2 linked regions of the Homo sapiens genome follow. The protein of the gene in region 1 purifies or fractionates together with the protein of each later gene. This does not show direct contact. Each region holds a gene or a part of one and is shown on either strand. Other genes may lie near its edges.

What was found. The genes of interacting proteins can lie anywhere in the genome.
Region 2: the proteins of F9 (region 1) and EOGT purify together in Homo sapiens (affinity purification with mass spectrometry; 2 studies listed by BioGRID and IntAct, with this or other methods). This does not show direct contact.

Annotation. Positions count from the first base shown.
Region 1 is NC_000023.11:139,551,239-139,554,895, forward strand, and holds part of F9 (coagulation factor IX isoform 1 preproprotein), read left to right. Parts: coding exon 1-26; intron 27-3,657. UniProt on the Homo sapiens protein: Factor IX is a vitamin K-dependent plasma protein that participates in the intrinsic pathway of blood coagulation by converting factor X to its active form in the presence of Ca(2+) ions, phospholipids, and factor VIIIa.
Region 2 is NC_000003.12:69,007,049-69,010,705, forward strand, and holds part of EOGT (EGF domain-specific O-linked N-acetylglucosamine transferase isoform a precursor), read right to left. Parts: intron 2,813-3,657; 5' UTR 2,799-2,812; coding exon 2,589-2,798; intron 1,481-2,588; coding exon 1,380-1,480; intron 774-1,379; coding exon 665-773; intron 1-664.

The sequences.
Region 1 (3,657 bases):
CCAAACCAGGTCAATTCCCTTGGCAGGTACTTTATACTGATGGTGTGTCAAAACTGGAGCTCAGCTGGCAAGACACAGGCCAGGTGGGAGACTGAGGCTATTTTACTAGACAGACCTATTGGGATGTGAGAAGTATTTAGGCAAGTTTCAGCACTAACCAATGTGAGAAGGCCTCCAGAGATGAGCAGTTGGTGAAAGAGAGGCTCAAAACCAGCTACCATACAGGTCAAGAAGAATTTGGCATTAAGGAAACAGCATAGCAGGATTCCAGACAGGCAACTGGTCAACAACATGAAGGTCTGGAAGAAAGGTCGCAGGTACTCAGGTTCAGGGCACTACTTCAGCTTCAGCCCTTGCAAAAACTGGTGAGAGTTGGAAAGTCTTTAGGCTAAGAAAAATTGGATTATTTAAAAGGGGGTAAAGAAAGGGACTCAAGGAGGAAGGATTAAGGCAAGAACTAGGTTCCAAGAAACAGGGCATGAGAGAGAGTCTTGATCTACCACTATAGTTCTCGTGGTAGCATCAGAATCACCTGGGAACGTAGAAATGCAAATTCTCCTGCTCTACACTAGACCTACCAAATCAGAATATCTAGGGGGTGGGGCCCAGCAGTCTGTGCGCAAACAAGCACTGCAGGTGATTTTGATGCACATTATAGTTTGAAAACTAGGCCAGGTGCAGTGGCTCATGCCAATAATCCCAGCACTTTGGGAGACTGAGACGGGAGGATTGCTTAAACCCAGGAGTTTGAGACCAGCCTGGGCAACACGGCGAAACCCCACCTCTAATTAAAAAAAATACAAAAATTAGCTAGGTGTGATGGCTCCCACCTGTGCTCCCAGCTATTCAGGAGGCTGAGGTGGGAGAATCACCTGAGCCTGGAAAGTCGAGGCTGCAGTGAATTGTGATCACACCACTGCACTTCAGCCTGAGTGACAGAGTAAGACCCTATCTCAAAAAACAGAAAAAGAAAAACACTGGCCCAAAGGAAATGAACTTGTTACAGAAGCCGGGGTTCAAAACACCAAATAATGCACTTGTACCTAGTCCTTCCCGGGTGCTCTGCAGACATTTCTCCAAGCGTAGTCTGCAAACAACCTACATATGTAGAATTACCTATGCACATTTTTCATTTAACAACCAAGAGCTACATTTGTAGCAAAATCTGGGTTGTAACTTAGCCTACAGCTGAAGCCTAAGAGATTCCGTCTGTGAGAAGAAATAACCCACCTCTTTGGCCCCCCTCCCCAGGCAGGAAGCCAGGATGGTCCTTATATAAAGTTGTGCTGTCCAATAGGTAACCACTAGCCACATATGGCTATTTAAATTTAAATTAACTACAATTAAGAGAAATTAAAAATTCAATTCCTCAATTGCACCTGCCAAATTTTAAGCACATAACAACCACATGTGGCTAGTAACTACTGTATTGGAGAGTGCAAGCGGAGATAGAACACTCTATTACTGCAGAAATTTCTATTGGATAGCACTTATAATAGTTTAGTGTAACTTAAAACTCCCTAGTTGCCACAGTCATGATTTAGTAGTAATTTCATGGATTTCTCTACTGAGGTTAGAATCTCTGCCATTAGAGACTGATAAATTTAAAGTTTGCAATTATCAAACTGGTGACAATTTAAGCCAGAATCAGGTAAATGTCCTCAGTTTTAACAGCATTGGAATTTTCTGGGACTAGCTGTGTATCTATCCAGGATTCTTGAGAATGCCTGCCATTTTTCAACATAATGGATGTAAGGTATTACACATATACCTGGGGATGGGGTGGTAGGTATAATTGCACAAGCATTGTGGAGAATGGTATCAAAGAGTGGCAGAACATCACAATCAAGGTTTTCCCTTTCTTTTACCTTTGCTTTTTAAAAAGACAATATTTGCTGGACCTGATCTTATAACTCATAAATGGGACACTGTATGTTCCTTTTTACCTCCTCTGTTTCTACTTAATTGCACCCTATGAGGACTGCTTCCCTTACCTACCATAACCCCTTCCTTCACTCATCCATATCTTTACTCTTCTTCACAACTCTGTAATATTGACCTTCTTTATGAACCTTTCCTGGAACAATCCCTCTTAAGTGCAAGCACTGTTATTATGCCTTCAATGTATTTAATATCCATGTATCTATTCTCTCTAATTTTGTCATTTTGTGTTCTCATGTATTTTCATTCATTATGTGTCCAACTTCCATGGATAACATGGTTACAACAAAAGATCCTACTTTATGACAATTATCTTCCTTGGGTTTGTGGGACATAGAACAGTGCTCAGAGTAGGGGATCCAAGAACCCAGGAGAATATATTAGCTAAGAAGATAACTTCCGTTTTTAAAAGTCCAAGATTCAGGAGATCAAAACCATCCTGGCTAACATAGTGAAACCCCGTCTCTTCCAAAAATACAAAAAATTAGCCCGGCGTGGTGGCAGGCGCCTATAGTCCCAGCTACACGGGAGGCTGAGGCAGGAGAATGGCGTGAACCGGGGAGGCGGAGCTGGCAGTGAGCCGAGATCCCGCCACTGCACTCCAGCCTGGGCGACAGAGCGAGACTCCGTCTCAAAAAAAAAAAAAAAAAAAAAGTCCAAGATTAAAAAAAAAAAAAAAAAAGGATGTCTGCTTTGTGAGTTTAGCATTGTCTCCTTGTCATTCCAGAAATGAAATGGCAAATACATTTAAATCAGAACTAAAAAGGGGAACAGGGTATAAAGGCTCAATTTAGTCACATCATTTCCGTTTCTCACCCACCCCCTTTAAACCAGATGTTTGCCAATGCATTAACAATGCAGATGTTTCCTGAAAGAAAGTTTAGTAACTCAAGCAGACACCTTATTTTCTTTTCAAGCAGAAAAGACTATGAGATGGTGGTTGTGGTTGTTCCGGGAGGGAGAAGATATAAATGATACACATTATTTCAAATCATTTCATGACCTCACTGCACACTTATAGTTATTGTACCTGTTGTCTTTTTGCTGTCAAGCCTAGCTAAGATCATTTGGAATGTTCAAGATCACTCATACATGCATGTGCACACATACACATGCACATATGTTCACTCCCTATTTCATCCACATGAACTAAGATTACTGATGTGTACAGATTCAAAGCACTTTTATTCTTTTCCAAAGGCAAGAAGCTGAGCTACTTTCCAGAATAGTTGTGAAAGACCCTGTCATACTTCTGCATTGTTTCCTCCACACCACCTCCATCCAGTTCCTTATGAATGGTTACTGGTTTTCAAAAATATGAGATAAATTGAGTGTATAAAAGTCATTTTTAGACAAAATGAAACAGGAAATGAAAGAAACCAGAATCTCTCCTCATTTGTGGATGGGCCAGCTCCACCATGTCATGGTTAATCTGCAGGGAGGAAATACTAGATTTGATTGCAGATCAGACTGCAGCAAACCTGCTGTGACTAAGGCATCAAGAGAAAGCAAGCAACAGCTGGGGCTTCAGTGGTGAAAACATTATATATCTAGCTTTGAAATATGAAATACTGTTTAGCAGTGTCACCTAGAAAAGAGTGTTTCAAAATGCTGATGCTTCATAAGAACCTTTCTCTTCAGAGTTGTTTCTTTTATCTTTCAAATTAGCCAGGGTGGGAAATAAAGTGATCACTTGGTGAAGAAATCTCACAAAGA
Region 2 (3,657 bases), on another chromosome or scaffold:
TGTCCCAAACTATCTGAGAATGAATTTGTAAAGACGCAGTTTATCAATTTCTCTTCATTAGCACATGTTTGGGGGAATGATTCTAAACCTAAAAATATTTCGACTGTCTTAAAATATGACTATCTGATAAATGTGGGATAAGGAGGACAGGGTTTCCAAAGGAAAGAAAACAACCTATTTGGGGAAGTTACATAAAATTCTATGCCAATAACTAAGTGAGAGTGAGGAATTCCTTTCATAGTGCCGTCTATCTTGTTTTTACATTACAAGCTAAATGATAAATATTAAAAATCAATAATAAGTAATAAAAATAAAATAGCTTAGTTGGGCACAGTGGCTCACGCCTGTAATCCCAGCACTTTGGGAGGCTGAGGTGGGTGGATCCCTTGAGGTCAGGAGTTCGCGATCAGCCTGGCAACATGGCGAAACCCCACCTTTACTAAAAATATAAAAATTAGCGGGGGGGGGTGGCACGCGCCTGTAATCCAAGCTACTCAGGAGGCTGAAGCAGGAGAATTCCTTGAACCTGGGAGGCAGAGGTTGCAGTGAGCTGGGATCGCGCCACTGCACTCCAGCCAGGGCAATAGACAGAAACTCCGTCTCAAAAATAAATAAAATTAAAATTAAATAAACAAGTTTATTTAGTAAGGAGCAAAATACCCACCGTTTCCTTAGGCTGACAGAGCACATGCATCTCCTCCAGCCTCTCTCTGGCATATCCAAAGTCAGCTTGTTTCCAAAATATGTCCTCAGCTGACTCAAGAGTGTCCGTCCTATTTGCAAATAAAAATATTCTGTGTTTTTTTCTTTTTACTTTTTTGGACCTTGAATTTTCATTCTAAAGGTTAAAATGCTAGAGGTTCCTTATTACTTTAATTTTGTTACAGTATATTATCATAGTTTTTCCAAAACTACGCCTCACTACATGAAGTTACGAAACTAAGTTATTCACAGAATTATTCCTTTATCATAAAATACATAACAGACATGTATGAAGTTATCACCTGAAACTGAAGCCAATGATGCATTCTTAATTACTATATTTTCTTTACCTCATTAACATTGCATGTATTGGAAGTACTAATTATACTTAATTCTCCCAGGAAGAATCAAGAAGAAACCATCCATTTATCTTCTTACTATACACTGGGGGAAAAAATTATCTATGGTCCTGGCTGTTTCTCCCTCTGGCAGAGGAAATGACAGATATTCCTATCCCAGTATGAAATAGTCAAGTTGAATTCATGACTGTGCAAGCAAATTAATATCTAAATGAATTACTATCTAAAACCAAAAGAATCTAGCTGGAAATTAGGGCATCAACATACACTGTATAGAAAGAGGAAGACTTGAAGAGGGTATTCCATATGGAAACTTACCATCCCATGTCGACATAGCTGCAAACTGGGTAACCAAACCTGAACTCTGGTTTGCAGGATTTCTCATAACCCCAGCAGTACTTTAGCTTCTCTAGGTGTTTCTAGAACATAAAACTTACATTGATTTCCCTTCTTCTGACATTTAGAGAAGACTCTTAGATTTTTCCATTAAGAAAACAAATCATTATAGAGCATTCACATTTACATTTATAATACGTATTCTTATAACAATAAATTTAAAACTTACAGTTAATTCTAAAAAGAGCAGTCTCAAGGTTCTTAACAATCCTCCTTACTCATCACCCCCACCATATCGGTCCCCTAACCGAAAGTCTGGGCTTTACCTAGACGCTCAAAGACCACTTGAATTTGAATTTCTTGAAGTAGCTTAAGAAACCACCTTTCTCAGTGAGCAAGCGGATTCTAAAATCAGTCCCTAAAAGACATATAAACTGGAATTTGTGCTACCAAAGGAATCACAGCTAAACTGAATCAATCAGCAACTTCACTTAGCAATCAAGATCAGCAGAGACCCCACAACACATGGACAACTCTGCCACCCTTGGGAACCACCCAGCTGCTGCTGGCCAAGGAGTTGAGAATGCTCTTCTGCAAGGCCCCAGGAGCAATGCTGGTCTGATTCCCAAGTCTGCTTTTCCATATGCTTCCTGTGCCAGCACCATGGGAAAGGAAGTGTCTCACAATGCCCAGCTTTGATCTCTGGGGCCCTGTGAGATGTCTTAATGGGCTCCTATTTGAGGCCTTTCCAACTCCTCTAAAACAGAAAGAAAGCCACAGTAACAGGCTTAATTATGTGGAGACAGAGGCTGAGGTGTTATTACTGAAATTAAGTGCTAACCGATCCTCTCATGTGCCGTTTAAGAAAGAAGAGGTGTGAAATTCTTTAGTTACTTTTAACAAGATGTTCTTTCCTGCATAAAATCTAATTGCTTCTTTACAGAGTTTACAAATAGTATTGGCTACTTATTTGTTTTAGAAGTGATTTAGATTTTAAATTTCTCTCTTATGAATGGGACATAATTTTAAGCAGTTTAGTCACTTAGAAGTATTATATGAAACAATGATTAACTTATACAGTGACAACCGAAAATTAGAATTCTGCCTTCAGTTTCAGGTTATAAAGCAGAACCTGTAAGCCAGCTGAAATTGCATCCTCATAAAAATAAGGAGAAAAGAAATAATACCTACCTTATATGGACAAAGAGAGTCTTTCCTACAGACAGTGGCAATATGCCTATTGTTGTGCAAAAAGAAGGGAATGTGCTCCTCTGGCAAGCGGATGCTGGCATAGTTATACAGAGGTTCGCCTGGAATGCTGTGAGTATTAGGAGGAGCTTCATTCTGACCACTCAGTGAGACTTCATGAAGTAAGACTCCAAAGACAAACAACATTAACATAGCAACCTGCAAACCTAGAGATCAAAATGAAGACAACTTTGTTAACAAATTTCCTTTAAAAGCCAAAACAACAACAACAACAACAACAAAAAAAAAAAAAAAACAAAGGGTCAAGGGCTAAGTATAATTACAAAGCACTTTGCTATCCCACTGAATAATGATCCTTTATTCAATTTTTTTTGAGCACTTGCTTGGTGCCAGGCACCACGTTAGCAAATGGGTATACAGAGGTGAACAAAACAAGAAAGAGCCTTGCTCTCATGGTGCCTTTAAACCTACTACAACTGTCATAAACAAGCAATCAAATAAACAACTTCAGCTGATGACTGGGCCTGTGAATCAAACCAACTAGGGGCCAGCAAACTTTTCCTGTAAAGGAGAAGCAGTAAATATTTTTGGCTTTGCCAGACATAAGATCTCTGTGGCAACTACACAACAATGCCTCTGTCCAAAAAAGTAGCCATGGTCTATTATAAAAGAATGGATGAGGCTGTGTTCCAATAAAACTTTTTAACTTACAAAAATTATGGAAGGGCTTGATAGGATCCAGTTTAGTGATACCTGAAACTAAATAAAGTAATATGATAGACAACATAGCATGGTGAACATTTAAAGCTTAACCACCTGGATTTGAATCGCAAATCTGCAGCTTCCCAGCTGTAAGACCTGGAACAAGTTACTTAACCTTTCTGCACCTAAGCTTTCCCATCTGTAAAATGGAAATAATAATAAACCTTCATCATAGAGCTGTCATGAGTTAAATGAGTTAGTTATTGGTAAAGTGTTTCGAAAACTATCTGGCACATGCTAAATGCTATGGAAATGTTTATTAAATAAAAGTTTAAAGCCATGTGGGGCA